3 separate regions of the Homo sapiens genome follow, and regions 1 and 2 are each linked to region 3. The links come from fine-mapping of genetic effects on gene expression. A gene starts in region 3. Each other region holds a variant in brackets. All regions are shown on one strand. Distances are from middle to middle. Region 1 overlaps NSMCE1 (NSE1 component of SMC5/6 complex). Region 2 overlaps KDM8 (lysine demethylase 8). Region 3 holds the start of NSMCE1 (NSE1 component of SMC5/6 complex).

What was found. PIP is the estimated chance that this variant, and not a neighbour inherited with it, causes the effect.
Region 1: its variant is fine-mapped to the expression of NSMCE1 in T cells (TOPMed, PIP above 0.99). The same link has a PIP of 0.9 or more in whole blood.
Region 2: its variant is fine-mapped to the expression of NSMCE1 in whole blood (TOPMed, PIP 0.98).

The regions. Positions count from the first base shown.
Region 1 is chr16:27,221,970-27,227,190 of GRCh38, reverse strand. It overlaps NSMCE1 (NSE1 component of SMC5/6 complex), which reads left to right. Exons shown (of 8, transcript NM_145080.4): 6 at 355-471; 7 at 1,345-1,465; 8 at 1,955-2,197. The coding sequence ends at 2,034. Among named protein-coding and RNA genes, the nearest start is that of KDM8, 21 kb to the right of the region's middle. RefSeq lists an enhancer at 4,111-4,796. The variant T/G (reference allele first, on the strand shown) is at 2,720.
Region 2 is chr16:27,209,323-27,214,543 of GRCh38, reverse strand. It overlaps KDM8 (lysine demethylase 8), which reads right to left. Exons shown (of 8, transcript NM_024773.3): 2 at 3,923-4,451; 3 at 793-959. The coding sequence starts at 4,420. Among named protein-coding and RNA genes, the nearest start is that of KDM8, 8.4 kb to the right of the region's middle. The variant C/T (reference allele first, on the strand shown) is at 3,055.
Region 3 is chr16:27,266,024-27,271,244 of GRCh38, reverse strand. It overlaps NSMCE1 (NSE1 component of SMC5/6 complex), which reads left to right and starts at 2,473. Exons shown (of 8, transcript NM_145080.4): 1 at 2,473-2,539. It overlaps NSMCE1-DT (NSMCE1 divergent transcript), which reads right to left and starts at 3,040. Exons shown (of 5, transcript NR_037184.1): 1 at 3,001-3,040. RefSeq lists a silencer at 2,500-2,579.

The DNA.
Region 1 (5,221 bases), 44 kb after region 3:
GGGGAGACTGACCCCCTTGTGGGCCTCAGCGTCCTCATCTGCAGGAGGGCTGTGACTGCCTCCCTCGAGGCTGCCGTGCAGACAGAGAAGTCACGTCTGAAGGCACAGCAGATGCTGAGAAAAGGCGGGTGTCAGGGAGCCACGCCTCCATGTCTTTAGGGTCTTTGCCTCAGTTTCCCTTGCCGAGGCTCTGCCAGGGGGATGTGGCTGATGCCCGTTGGCTGGGGTTGGTGAAAAGCTGCGTAGACCCTTGTGTCTTCCTGAGCACTGGGCTGTGGGATCACAGAGGGAAGAGAGGTGGTGAATGGGGAGAGGGCCTGGCTGAGGGTGGCCACCTCCTGTGTGTCCCTGCAGAAGGAAGGGGAGTTCACCCTGCACGGCCGGGCCATCCTGGAGATGGAGCAATACATCCGGGAGACGTACCCCGACGCGGTGAAGATCTGCAATATCTGTCACAGCCTCCTCATCCAGGTACCCGCAGGGCAGGGCACGGGAGCTCATCACTGGGCCCTCGGCTCCCGGGGCTCTGTACAGGTACTTCCCGGAATCCTGGCTCTGGGCCCAGCCCTCCTGCACTGCTGGCGCATCCTCCCACAAGAGCTGGCGGAGGCCATCTCCCAGGACGTGTCAGGACGCCTCCCTGCTGTGCCCCGCAGGGACGCACTGCCGCCCTCCTCCCTGGTTCTGCTGTTGGGGTCCAAGGGCCCTCGCTTACTTTATTTTTCTCAGGAAGGCTGAGTGTTCTGTGCAACCTGCATCATCTTGGTAGTTTTGTAGTGAGTGTCTCTTGTCGATTGCTGCTTTCTGGAGTGGTCTTAACACTGGTTTGCAGGGCTTTGCAACCGCTGAACCAGCGTGGACATTGATGTGTCTTTCAGTTTCTATCGTTTTGCAGCTGTAGCTGTTTGTAATTGCAATTGCTCTTACGGGCCTCGTACACCTGTATCCTTGGGCACCTGGTGATTATTTCCTTGGGCGGAGTTTCTGGGACAAAGTGCACTTTTTTTTTGAAAGCTTTTGATTCACATTAGCAAATAAGCTTCTGAAAAGCTGTGGCTGTCCACACGCCACCTGCAGGATCTGAGTGCAGGAGTTTGGGAGCCCTCGGCTTCTGTCACTGCGTTCATGTGTTCAGAATTGTTTAGTAAAACCCACCGCAACAAGCAGCAAGCAAACAAAAGACTCCACTGCACTAAGGCGTTTGGGATTATTTTCAATATTAATCTGGGGCCCAGAAGATAACACGATGCCACCTGCTGCCCATTTCCCTTGTGGCTTCCCCGGAGGTTTGCAGAACATGGAGGTGTGCACCAGCTCCGCCGTCATTGGCCTTTCCTGTTTCAGGGTCAAAGCTGCGAAACCTGTGGGATCAGGATGCACTTACCCTGCGTGGCCAAGTACTTCCAGTCGAATGCTGAACCGCGCTGCCCCCACTGCAACGACTACTGGCCCCACGAGATCCCAAGTGCGTGGGCCCTGAGGAGCTCATGGGAGGGGCTGGGCCAGCAGGACGTGGGGCCTGGTGCCAGGGAAGCCCTTGGAGACAGGGCCCTGAAGGGCTCCAGGGTGTGTGGGGGTCCGTGTTAGCAGCTTGAATCCTAGAAGAAGCCACTGCAGGAAGTAAAGGCTGAGCTACGTGCACCGCTCCAGAGGACTTTCTAGAACCCAGCTGAAATTCCAACGTGTATGAGCATTTTGTCTAGACAAGGCTCTCTCTCTGGCAGCCCTCTCAGGAGGGGGACGTGAAAGCTATGTCCACAGCTCCCTCAGTTTGTTCCTCTCTGAACTGGGGCTAACTCTGCCTTCCTCACGGGCTGGGGAGGGTTAGCAGTGAAGGATGGTGTAGACCTAGGACAGTCCTTGGCACAGGAGACGTAGCTGCTGGCTCCAGCTGGTGCCCCTGTGCTGCCAGCCCCTCCATTCACTGTGTCTTTCCTGCCTTTTCTGTCTACAGAAGTCTTCGACCCTGAGAAGGAGAGGGAGTCTGGTGTCTTGAAATCGAACAAAAAGTCCCTGCGGTCCAGGCAGCATTAGCCATCGTGCCCTGCTGAGGGGCTGGCTGCCTTGAGTGGCCTGATCGCCACAGCCCTTCTTGGAAGAAAGGCGTCCGTGTTTCAGGTTCCACGCGAGTCACCTCTTTCGTCTTAATGTTCACCGTCCACAGCTTTGGAATAAACCATCCTGGGAAGTTGCTGCAGCCCGTCTGTGTTCTCGAGCCCGTGTGTGAGGCTCCGTGTTGGGGCCTTGCCTTTCCTGGAGTTCGGTCGTCACTCAGACCCCCTGGGTTTGGGCTCCAGCAGGTGAAGCCAGCAAGAGCCCCCAGCAATGACTCAGAACAGCTCACTGTCCTTGCCCAGGGCAGCCTTGCCTCCAGTCCCAGCGGTGGCCAGCTGTCCCAGCAGGACTGGGCTGGCCCGAACCTGGATGTGTGAGCCTTGGCCTCCCCAGCTCCCCAGTCTGGACTCTCCCCTGGCCCAAGGTGCCACTGGCCTGAATGGGCTGAGGCTGGGCGTTTGGGCGGGATGCGTGCTCTCCCTCCCTGGACGCTCTGCTCCCTGTGGGTGCCCGGCAGCCCTGCCATCCAGCTGTCCCAGCCGGGACTGGGAGTCAGCCTCAGTGCTTCCTCTCCCTGACCCTCCTGCATCCCATTGTCACCAGATCCTGTCCAGCCCAGCTGCCAATAGCCCTCTAGCCCTGCCACTGCTGCCTCAGGCTGAGC[T/G]CCAGCCCCGGCCCACACTCTGCCTCTGTGCTCCCTGCAGAAGACCCCTGGATGCCCCCACTGCTGCAGCAGGGCTGTGACCCCTGGTGAGGCTCCTGCTCATCTGCCACCGCCTCCCCCCACCCACTGCTCAGGGTGCAGCGCTTCCTTCGTCAGCTCCGGAGCCTCTACACAGAGCGCCCTGGGCCTGCGCGCCCTCCCCTCTGGTGTCTGGCTTTGTTTCCTGGCTAGCACCCGCTCGCCCTTTGGCACTGGTCAGCCCCTCGCTCCCTGCACTTCCTCCATCCTCACACTTGTTAAGTCCCCATCTTCATCCCTCTCTTGAACCCCAGCATCAGTCAGGATGCTTCAGTCATGACAGAAAAGCCAACTCAGACTGGCTGAAACAAGGACGGACTTGGCCACAGGGGTCTTGAGGAGATGCCTGGTCTAGAGGCTCCAGCAAGGTCACCACACAGCCATATTTCTGTGTCTACTGTGCTTTCACTGGGCTGGCTGCATGCTTGGGGCCTACGAGGTGGTTTCCTAGAAATCCAGCTGCCTTCTTCATGGTAGCAAAATAGCTGCCATGCCTCTGGGCCTCGCGCATCATGCCTGGGATCAGGAGGAAGAGGGTGGCTCTCACTTAGTGGCTCCCACATCCTTGCAAGCATCCTCATGGCCCACAGCTCCCACGTGGACACCTGTGAGGTGGGGATGGGATTATCCAGCTGGCATTGGAAAATTAGACCCACCTCGGAGAGAGGGGTGGGACTGTCCCTCTCAGGCCACGTGGCTGAGGGAGCAGGGGCCTTTCCCTAAGCATATCGAAGGTGCGATCACATCTTCAGTAGCCTCAGGGGCAGCAGGGAGTGAACTTGGACACTGAATTGGTGGCTGGCCTCCCCCGCTGCAGGCAGGACCACCCCACTTTGTTCACCTCCATAAACCCAGGGTGGAGCAGGCATCCAAGGCTCAGTGAACCAATGACCCCTGCTGGTGGGAGGCTCACCCTCCCAGAACCAGGTCTGGGCTCCTCAGCCCTCAAGCCCACCTTCCCATAGTGAGGCAGCCGGGGACCCAGCCCAGCCCTTCGTCAGTGGGCAGAGACACGCCCATTGGTAAGCCCAGTACGTTCAGCCACTGCCAGCCCCGGCCGGCCTCACCTAAAGAGGGGTTTTTTGGAAACGTATGAGGTGGCTTGCAGAAATGACAGGAAGGCAGGACCAGTCTAGAATGGGAGACCTTGGAATAAGGGTCATGGATGTCAAGACAATTCTGTCACTGCGGGCGCTGCTGCCACAGGGGGTCGGCTCCAGCCTGTCTGAGCTCCTCCCGACACGCCCTCAAGATGCCGGTCCAGGGAGGAGCTGATGTACAGACCTTCCAGGACCGCATCCCTGGGGCAGAGGTCATTCTCCAGAATGCAGTCAGCTTGCCGTTCTGGAAGACGGGAAGATGGACGCCAGAAGGCAAAAAGCCAACTAGCAAATAATGCCTGCAGGAGGGGCCGGGGCAGCTCCGGACTGTCCCAGTTGTCCTGTGGTTCTGGCTGTTCATTCTTTGAGCTCGAGTCAGTCCTGGCTGGGGACTCAGGAAGCCTCTGGGCACTTGGCCACTGGGGACACCAGCCCTCCTGCTGCTTGTCTCTCTTGCCTCCAACCCCTGCATGATAACACCGACATGAACGTCCCACAACGCACACTAGCACTCACTCAAAACCCTCATGAGGAGTTCCAGATGCTGCGTGTCCTCACCCACAGGGCAGGACATTTCCCCTTTTCCCATTCCTCATCTGACAAGGGACATCTGCTTGAAGCCACCTGGCCAGGATACCACACGTTAATGAACGTGGCCTCCCGTGCCCAGCTTTCTGTCACGCTACACTACAGATGGGCCGTGGGGCTTGCCAGCTGGAGCGGCTAGGCACTGGGAGCTGGGGCCACAGTCCACCTGTCCTTCAGCTGGGGAAGGGGTTTGAGTTACACAGGCGGGCCAGGAGTCACAGCCCACTGTGGCCGGGCCGCCACCCCTCCTCACTAATGGCGAACCTAGTCATGAGGGCGTCCCTGTTTTATGCCTCGCTACTTTCAGGGGTGTTGACATCTGGTGTAAATTCTTCCTGTGAAAGATTAGGTAATTCACTATTAACCATGGCAGGGAATAAACAATGTCCTTGCAAACAGCTGCCCACGGAGCCAAGTGGACTCAGCTTCCAGATAGCTCTTGTGTTTGTCACTCCCCAGCACGCCCATGGCCCCTCGGCAGCCCACTCCCAGGATGAGTATCACGGCCTCTCCCTGCCAACAGCCAGCTTTCGAGAATGCAGATTCTGCTGTGTCTGCTCAAAGGCTGAGAACCCCAGGACCTACACGATAAAGTCAAATTCCTTGGCCTGGGTAGAGGGCATCAGGAGCTGGAGTTCAGCTGCCCACAGCCACTTTCCCATCCCCCTTCTAGTTACCCCAGGGTAGCTACCTCCTGGCCAACCAGAATCTTTCCTGGGGCTGCTTGATTTTTGGC
Region 2 (5,221 bases), 57 kb after region 3:
CGGACAGCGTGGCAGGTGGCAGTCTCCTGGACTCTGCCCTCTAGCCTGGGACTGATTCCAGGCCTCATCAGTTACAGGCCAGGGGATCTGAGGCAGGTTACTGAACCCGAGTCCTTGATCCCCATTTACAGAATGGGGGTGATGACAACACCTGTCCTAGTGCCAGGTACGTAGTAAAATGCTTAATGAAGCCTTGCTGTGAGGAGAGCTCCTGCAATGAGAATTCCTCCACATGTGTCAGCGGGTACCATTCCCTCCGCGAAACCACAAAACAGGCGGACTCCATCTACCTTCCTGGAGAGATGCCTCCTTATTTCCAAACTCATGCAGAGCCGCGGCATGACAGCCACGCTCCAGCTGCCTGATCTGATCTCCCCATCATGATTCTGAGAAAGGACTAGAAACAAACACAAGAGACCACAGAATCCCTCAGAGAGAGAGGGGCTGTCTCTTGGGTTATTTCTGCTCTTAGCTTCAGGGCCCTGAGATGGTCTGAAATTGCTAGGATCCTGTAAAATTGCATAACAGAAACATTCTAGGACTGCCACTTAGGGACTCATTAAAAAACCGCTTAAGGCGAGCAAGGTAGAAGGTAAGAATCCCATAACCTGCGGCATAAATTCAGAGCACCTTACTTTTCACTCTTTTTTAACCCCTTGGCAATCAGTCAAGGGCTGCTAGTGAAGCATCTACAAGGTTGCATTTCCCTGGGGATGGTCGGGAGGAATTCAGGGAGCCCTGGGGAACGCTAAAATGGGAAAAGGGACCTCACCTCCCTCAGCGACCACCCACCTCCACTTCTGCATGCACGGCCAGTGGTCAGCCACGCCTTTCAGGATCACGGGCCTCCCTGGAACCAAAAACTGCTCCCTGAAATGCTGGAGGGACGGACGGTGCAGCCGGGGGACTGTTTTTTCTAACTTCACATCTGGAATCAAACCATGGTCCGCCCTTGCTTTCTGTTTAAAATCAAAACAGAACAAAATAGCAACCACCTCAGGAAGTCGACATTTGAGGTATTCCACCAGGAACCTGTGTCAGGGGTAGGAGAGCTTAGCTGTCAAGAGTACCAGTAACAACAATAGACAACGTTTGTTATTATTACTGCTACTATTACTATTTGCTCCTCATGAGATCAAGGTGGTTTTTTTCTTAACCATTTCATCAAAAATGTTTGTTTCATTATAAACTGCTTTCACAGACATTCTGCAATAAAGGAAAACTTACTATCTCCAACTTCACCATCTTAAGGTCTTCTCATTCCTATTCTTTTCCCATCTTACACACACACACACACACACACACACACACACACACACACACACGCAAAATATCTCTGACCCACTGGGAGTAACAGCAATGATGAAGCAGCAGCCCTGCCTCTCCCCTCCAATCATTTATCAAAAGCAGTTTCCACATGGCCACCCGGTCCTTACAGTTTCTTAGGAGTGGCTGCACCATCATTTCCTTAACCATCTCCCAGCTGGGTGACCTGAGTAAGTTACTTGCTGCTTGAGAACCTCAGTGTCCACAGGTGTGAACCTGCTGGGAAATGGCCAGCCACACTGGCTCATACCTGTAATCCCAGCACTTTGGGAGACCAAGGTGGAAGGACTGCTTGAGCCCAGGAGTTTGAAACGAGCCTGGGCAACATAGAGAAACCTCTGGCTCTAGAAAAAATTTAAAAAGCTCGGCGTGGTGGTACATGCCTGTAGTCCCAGCCACTCGGGAAGCTGAGGTAGGAGAAATCACCTAAGCCTAGGAGGTCGAGGCTGCAGTGAGCTATGTTTTATTTATTTATTTATTTATTGAGACCGAGTCTTGCTCTGTTGCCCAGGCTGGAGTGCGGTGGCACAATCTCGGCTCACTACAACCTCTGCCTCACGGGTTCAAACAATTCTCCTGCCTCAGCCTGCAGAGTAGCTGGGATTACAGGCATGTGCCAGGACGCCCAGCAAATTTTTGTATTTTTAGTAGATATGAGGTTTCACCATGTGGGCCAGGCTGGTCTCGAACTCTTGACCTCAGGTGATCTGCCGGCCTCAGCCTCCCAAAGTGCTGGGATTATAGGCGTGAGCCACCATGCCCGGCCTGCAGAGAGCTATGATTGTGCCACTGCACTCCAGCGTGGGTGACTGGGCAAGACCCTGTCTGTAAAAAAAATGAAACAAAAGAGCAACCCACACCCCATGCCCTTGGCCACATGGTGCCCTTGGCAACACCGGGTATCATATGAAGCCTTGTTTGCTAACTTAACAGCCAAAGATGAAATGCTGTTTTGCTATTTGCATCTCTCTCTTTTATTTTTTTAACCAGAGGTGAGGCTGAACATTCTCCTGCACATTTGTTTAACAGATCTATTTCCTTCTTGTGAACAGTCTGTTCAGGTTCCTGGATTTCTACCTCCTGGGGCTCAAGATTTTTTCCCTATTGATTTGTACCATTCCTTACGTAATAGAGATATTCATTGTCTGACATATTTGTGGAAAAATTTTCTTCTCCCTTTATTTGATTTTCTTTTATTTTGGTTACATGCCTGTGTGTTTAGTGTCAACCACTTGCATTTTTCTTATATAAAAATAATTTGTGGCTCACGCCTGTAATCCCAGCACTTAGGAGGCTGAGGTGGGTGGATCACCTGAGGTCCAGACAAGCCTGGCCAACATGGTGAAACCCTGTCTCTATTAAAAATACAAAAATTGCCGGGCGTGGTGGTGGGTGCCTATAATCCCAGCTACTTGGGAGACTGAGGCAGGAGAATCATTTGAACCTGGGAGGCAGAGGTTGCAGGGAGCTGAGATTGCGCCACTGCACTCCAGCCGGGGTGACAGAGTGAGACTCCGTCTCAAAAATAATAATAATAATAATATGCATTGTAGGAAATTCGGAAAACATAGCAAAGCATTTAGAAAAATGTCAGAAACATCCCATAATTCCACTACCAAGTGTCTAGTACAGTCTTAGTCATTTCTTTCTGTGGGTCAGTACTCTGCCACTCTACAGACAAGGAAACCGAGGCTCAAAGGAGGTTAAGTGACTTGCTTGGGTGTGTTG[C/T]AAGTGAGGCCTGTGTGTTGGCACCAGGACCTGAAGCCTTCAGAGTAAACCATGCTCTGTTCCTGGGGGTGCTCTTTGGAACAGGCACATAGACCCAAGGGGTGGGAGAGATTGACCCCAAAACAGACATCAGCTAGTTGTAGTATCTCATCCAAACCCAGGAGCAGAGAGACAGGAGCAGCTGGAGGTATCGCCTCGCCTGGGTGAGACTTCAGCAAGCCCACCAAGAAGCTGAAAGAAACGGGCTGCCGCTGGCTGCAGCTCTCACCCACACAATCGCTTTAAGCTGTTTCCCTCAGGAACCACGAAGTTTCTCTGCTGCCTCTCTGCTGAAAGGGCGCTGCCTTTGCAAAAAAAAAAAAAAAAAAGAGAGAAAATGAATGGAGCTGTTCCATTTCCAAAGTCAATGGGGGCTGAGCACGGTGGCTCACACCTGTAATCTCAGTGCTTCGGGAGGCCACGACAGGAGGACTGCTTTAGGCCAGGAGTTCCAGATTAGCCTGAGAAACATGAGACCCTATCTCTACAAAAAATAAAAAATAAATAAGAAACTAAAAAAATTAGCTGGGTGTGGTGCCATGCACCCATAGTTCCAGCTACTAAGGAGGCTGAGGCAGAAGGATTGCTTGAGTCCAGGAAGTGGAGGCTGCAAGGAGCCGAGATCACACTACTGCACTCCAGCCTGGGCGACAGAACGGGACCCTGCTTCCAAAAACAAACAGAAATCCAAAATCAATGGCAATGCTGTTTTCCACCAGAGGGGTTGCAGGCCACGAGGCCTCACCCCAGGGGAGAGATGACTCGGAATTTCTAGAACAACAGGGTTGCTGGATGGCTAGTGTGCTTGGGGAGAATCTCCCCCACATACCTTTGTGCAGGGTTGCTCTGGGAGGGAGCCACGGGCAGGCCTCTTTCCAGGGAGGTGTGTCTGGAGGATGGCAGCGACTTTAAGAAGGATGTCCCCCAGGATGGCTGCCCCCATCAGCAGGCCCATGTCACAGACCCGCAGGGCTGCGGCCACAGTGTTGGCATCCTCAGGTGCCTGGCACAGACACAGGGCTTTCAGGAGGCAGCCGATGGCGTAGACCCGGCGCCAGTCTTTGTCTACGTCCTGCCATGTGCCCGTGTTGAGCTTCTCCCAGGAGTAGTCCAGGATCACCTCGCTGCTCTGCAGACACTCGTCCCTCCTGCCCTCGTAGAAGAGCTCAGTGGCTCGCTGCAACAATGTCACCACGCTCCTCTCCACTTTCTCCCCGAGGTCCAACTTCAGGTCTTCTTTACTGTGCGGCAGGAGCGCCCTGAGGGCCTCCCATAAAGTGCCTTCTCTGGCCAGGGGCTCTGCGGGGCAGTGGGTGTCTCCAGCCATCGGGCCACCACCAGCTGGTTCAGTCCCGTGCCTGGGGAGGTGGAGAGAAACAAGAGTTAGACACCAGGACAGACCTGATCCCCTGTGCATTCCCGCAGCTTCCTGCATCTCATCTGCGAGGATTTTTCAACAGCAGTCTTCTCTGTTGGGCAGAAGCTCTGGAGGGGAGGGCCCTCATCTGTCTGGGGTCACCACTGTATCTTCAGGGCCTGGCGCAACACCTGGTACTCAGCAAGCACTGGATAAACGTCTGTTCAGAAAGGAACGTGTATTGTCCTCATCTGCAGTGCCTCCCATACCCCTCCGCTGCCTGGCAAACTCCTACCCAACCTTTAAAGCCCATCTTAAATATCCCTATGTGAGGCCTGCCAAGACTCTCCAACAGTGTTCTGTGTTCCTGCAGCCCTTGAGCTTCTCTTACAGTACTCGTCAGGATGTATGAAAACACCTGCTTACACGTGTGTCTATCCAACACTGCACTGCCAGCTCCACCAGGGCAAGAACGTAGCTCATTCCCCTACGTTTCCCAGAGCCTAAAAGCAGAGTCTGCCTCATGGCAGTCACTCAGGAGTGCCAGGCTTTGAAAAGTATTCGAGAAGGCCGGCATGGTGGCTCACGCCTGTAATCCCAGCACTTTGGGAGGCCGAGGCAATTGGATCACTTGAGCTCAGGAATTCAAGACCAGCCTGGCCAACATGGCAAGACGCCGTCTCTACAAAAAATACAAAAATTAGTTGGGCACGGCGGTACATGCCTGTGGTCCCAGCTACTCAGGAGATTAAAGGTGGTGGGATCACTTAA
Region 3 (5,221 bases):
TTGAGGGCTTACAATGTGCCAGAGACACTCTTCTAAGTAGTTTACGTTTACTCTTCCTTTAATCTTCAGAATAACATTATCAACAAAGTGTTATTATTAAACCTGCTTTATAGATGAGCAAACTGAAGCTGAAAACTTGAGCTCAGTCATCCCTTAGTATCTGTGAGGGATTGGTACCTTAGTCCCCATGGATACCAAAATTCTCGATGCTCAAGTCCCTTATGTAAAATCAAAACCACCTTTGTAAAAAGCATAACTGAGAAAATTATGATAGTGAAAGAGATCTGGCCTGACTCCATCTTGCTTCTAACTTCCAAGCTGTCCTTGATCATTCCTGGACATAGGTGGAATTAATGTTGGAAAGAACTTAGTTTATAGTTTAACTTTGAAACAAAGGCAATAATAGCCCTTTCCCAAAACAAATCCCCTCCTTGCCTAGGAACGGGTCTGCCTTTGTAGACTAACAAATTAGCTAAAAGATTAGAAATTATGGTTTAGGAGGTCACGCAAGCTGGAGGCTACAAGATTCTGACCCTCCCCAGATTGCTTCCGGGAGTAACATCACTGTTCTAAAACCTAAAATCAGTGCTTGAGATATTTTGCAGAACCCGTGTTCTAATGCACCAGCTGACGCCACCCAGCCCTGTAATCTGGCTAATCTGGTCCTATGGTCCTAACCCAGGATCTGACTCAGTGCAAGAGGACAGCTTTGACTCCTTTCCTCTCTGATCCAACCTATCAACACTCTCTAATCCCCAGCACCTCCAGCCACCAAATTATCCTTGAAAACCCTGAATTTCCAGGGAGACTGATTTGAGTAATAATAAAACTGTGGTCTCCTGTTCAGCCAGCTCTGTGTGAATTAAACTTTCTCTATTGCAATTCCCCTGTCTTGATAAATTGGTTCTGTCTAGGAAGCAGGCAAGGAGAACCATTGGGTGCTTACAAAATGCGAGAATACTTGCATTTAACCTACACAAATCCTCCAGTATATTGAAAATCATCTTTAAATTACTTACAATACTTAATACAATGTAAATGCTATATAAGTAATTGCTATGCTGTATTGCTTTCGGAATCTGTATTATTTTTATTGTTGAACTGTTATTTTTTACTGTTTTCCCCCACAAATATTAACCACCCACAGTTGCTTCAATCCGTAGATGGGGAACCTGTAAACATGGACAGCTGACTGTACTTTGTCCTATGTCTCAGAGACACTGAGTTTAAGGCCCAGGATTCCATGTTGACCATCCAGCTCCAAAGCTGAAGCTTTTAATCACCACACACCACTGCTTTCCCACTTAGCAGATGAAACTGAAGCCCAGAGAGGTTAAGAGGTTGTCCAAGATCACAGGGGTGGTGAGTGACCAAGCCTGGATTTGATCTATCCTCACAGAGACAGATATTTGCAGGTACTGCTGTTCTATATTAGTTACCTGTTTCCCTTGCTAGGCTGCATCCCTAGCTCTCAGACCAGGGATAGAATTCAAACGTTTGGAAAATTAACGCCTTGAAGACTCAAAGCAGTCCATTCACTTCCACGAGTAATTTCACTTGCTTTCTCACAATCCCTAGGTAAGATAACAGTTAACATATAATCAGCACTCCCATGTGACACTTTTCAATGGCCATGCTAAGCACCTGATATAGGTGTTATTATCTCTTGTAAATCTCACCAACACTATTTTGCAAGAACTAATATCCTCATTTAATGGAAGAGGAAACTGAGGCTCAGTGACTTGCCCAAGCGCCTGCCAACTAGTAAGTGGCAGAGCCAGGATTCTAGATCAGGCTCTATGACCACAGAGTCCACATTTTTCTTTTCTTTTTTTTTGAGCTCTGTCACCCAGGCTCGAGTGCTGTGGTACGATCTGGCTCACTGCAACCTCTGCCTCTCGGGTTCAAGTGATTCTCCTGCCTCAGCCTCCCGGGTAGCTGGGATTACAGGCACACACCACCACGCCCGGCTACTTTTTGTATTTTTAGTAGGGACGGGGGTTTCACCATGTTGGCCAAGCTGGTCTCGAACTCCTGACCTCAAGTGATCGGCCCGCCTTGGTCTCCCAAAGTGCTGGGATTACTTACAGGCGTGAGCCACCGCGACCGGACCAGAGTCCACATTTTTGACGTCGAGGCCACACTCAGTTCCACAGATGGGGAAACTGAGGCCCGGGGCAGGGCACTACATTGTGCCAGCGGAATGGTGGCCATTGAGGGAAGCCCAGGCTGCACGCCAATTCTTCCTCCTTGGTCAGGGAAGTCACTGAGGTGCAGGAGGCGGAGGGCGACAAGTGGAAGCCCCTTCCCATTATTAAGGATCGAGAGCGGGCGTAATTTGGGATCTAACCCACGAGGCGGAACCACCAGGGCAATGGCGCAAACGGAGAACCGGAAGTGCGTCACTCAACGGACGGGCGAATAAGCCGCAGGCCACCAATGGGAACGCCGCGTTCGCGTTCGCCCCGCCTCAAAGGAAGAAGAGTCCACCTTGCGACCGTATCCGCTAGCGCGGCCTGGGATGCGCTTGGGCTCCCTGGTGGGTAACGTGGGGAGCTAGGGGTTGGAGGGGAAAGAAGAGGGACTTCAAGGAAGGCGAGGGGAGGACGGAAGGTGGGGTGGGCGAGACAGGCAGTGGGGTCCGGCCCCGGGGTCGGTCCCCGTGGGCTGTGGAACTCGGGGACTGGGGTCTTGGGGTTTCCCCCTTCTTGATGGGGAAACTGAGGCCCAGACAGGGGCCGCAGAAAACAGCGGACTGGGATGTCCTCCCGCAACACACACGCAGACATCTAAAAATCTTACTATTTAGTGAAAAATATTTTTAATCGTAATTACGATTTAACAGGTAAAGATACTTTTCATTGTAACAGGTGAAAAAGCAAAATATAAAATTCGATTCAAACTGTGATTACATCTATGGAAAATACAGCCTTTGCCGACCACCCTCTTTGTCCCGCCGCCCTCCGTGCTCCCCTCTGTTTTGTGTACGGAGTTTCTTACTTTGTACAAGTCCGCAGCCGCTTATGTTACAGCCCCGAGGCCAGATGCGTTTAAAATCGAGGAGTTCTCGGAGTTTGGAAAGGTAAAGTCCCTATGTTCTATGTTAGGTTTCACCCTCAGAGGGGGCTGGAGCAGCGGCTTGTAATCAAATACACGACCCTTTCCACAGCTAAAGTTATGAAGATACGCATATATTACATTGACCTGGTCGCGGTGGCCCACGGCTATAATTCCAGCACTTTGGGAAGCTGAGGGGGGCGGATCACCTGAGGTTCGGAGTTCGAAACCAGCCTGGCTAATATGGTGAAACCCTGTCTCTACTAAAAATACAAAAAATTAGCCGGGCGTGGTGGTGCGTGCCTGTAATCCCAGCTACTCGGGAGGCTGAGACGGAAGGCTGAGGCAGGAGAATCGCTTGAACCCGGGAGGCGGAGGTTGCAGTGAATCAAGATCGTGCCACTTCACTCCAGCTTGGGCAACAAGAGCGAAACTCCGTCTCAAAAAAAAAAATGCATATATTTACACTGTTGGGATAAATAACCATAAATAGCCTCACCTTAAGTCAGGTCAAGTTTTCCAACTTAAACAAGTTTTGGTATTCAGACTTTTTTTTTTTTTTCCCCTGCATCCGATCATCCACTAGTATTCATACCTTTTTAGATTTGAGGGTTGCAGATGAGGGACCTGGATTGTAGTTGTTCTGTTCACTCACTTTTCTCACTCTCGCTGGATAGAGAGTGTCCTTGAAAACAGGAACTGTGCTGTTGTATGGTCACGTCTATCTCTGCCACCAACTCTTGTGTGTCACCTTGTGCCCTCTTAGTCTCAGTTTCCTCATCTGTAAGATGGGGTCAGTGACCCTTTGCTCATAAGGTTGTTCTGGTTTGGGTTAAATGAGGTCGGGCATGTGAAGCACTAGAATTGTGTTAGCACCCGCACGAATGGTATGACTGAGATTTACTTATTCCACAAACATTTCTATTTTAAAATTATTAAATTTAAATAAATTGATTTAATTAATGCATTTAATTAATTTAATAATAAATTTAAACGTATAGATGTATTTCTTAAAATGTGGGTGATAGGAATTTTAAAGATTTATATAATGCTTCAAAAGCCTTCGAAAAGGTTTTTTTAATTGGTTTATCTGTATATATGAACTCTTGAAACTTATGGCTAAAACACTAGGATTTATCTGCAAGGTTGCAGAGAGATAATTCTGCCTTAAATTGGCTAAAACAAAAACAAAACCAGCCAACCTATATTATACATGGGATTAAAACCAATTTTTCTCCCATTTTTTTTCTCCTTTTTTCTTTTGCTGCCCACATTATGCCTTATTTTATGAGCCCCAGTTTTCTGGGCTTAGTTAAAAAAAATTCAGTTCTAAACATTGAATTTAGGGAGTTTTTGTTCTTGAATAAAAAGGCATATACTTAGAAAAAAAATCTGTTTATCCGGGAAAATATATTGAAATCATGCTGCTGAGCCTCTATTTTCTTTGATGTTTTGGTTCTGTATTATTTTATCATAACTTTTTAGCATTTAAAAATTTACTGATGTACATTTAAAGCCAATAAACTGTTTTAATTAATTTTTTTAAAAAAAGTAATTTTTTTTTTCTTTTTGTGACAGAGTCTCGCCCTGTCGCCCAGGCTAGAGTGCAGTGACGCGATCTTGGCTCACTGCAACCTCCACCTCCTGGGTTCAAGCGATTCTCCTGCCTTAGCCTTCTGAGTAGCTGGGATTACAGGCGTGCACCACCACGCCTGGCTGATTTTTGTATAAAATAAAATTATTTAAGTAGGTAATACATGTCTATGCTAATCCCACCATTCTCCCTACAGTCTCTTCTCATAGAGACAAGGGACATAATATGCATAAACAAGCTTATGGTTGTCTTTCTTCCACTCCTACTTTTCCCACTCCTTTTCCACCAAATTATAGCATTCAATCCTATCCTGTTCTCATTCTCATTTACATTTATTTTGGCTGTTATTTAACATATTCACATTATTTTGTTGTTGTTGTTGTTGTTGAGAGTGGATCTTGCTATGTTGCCCAGGCTGGTCTTAAACTCCTGGCCTCAAGCAGTCCTCCCGCCTTGACCTCCCAAAGTATTGAGATTACAGGTGTGAATCACCATGCCCAGCCCATCACATTTAAAAACATTGTATGTAACATACCTATACAATTGTGTGGAAGTGTAAGTTTGAAGAAC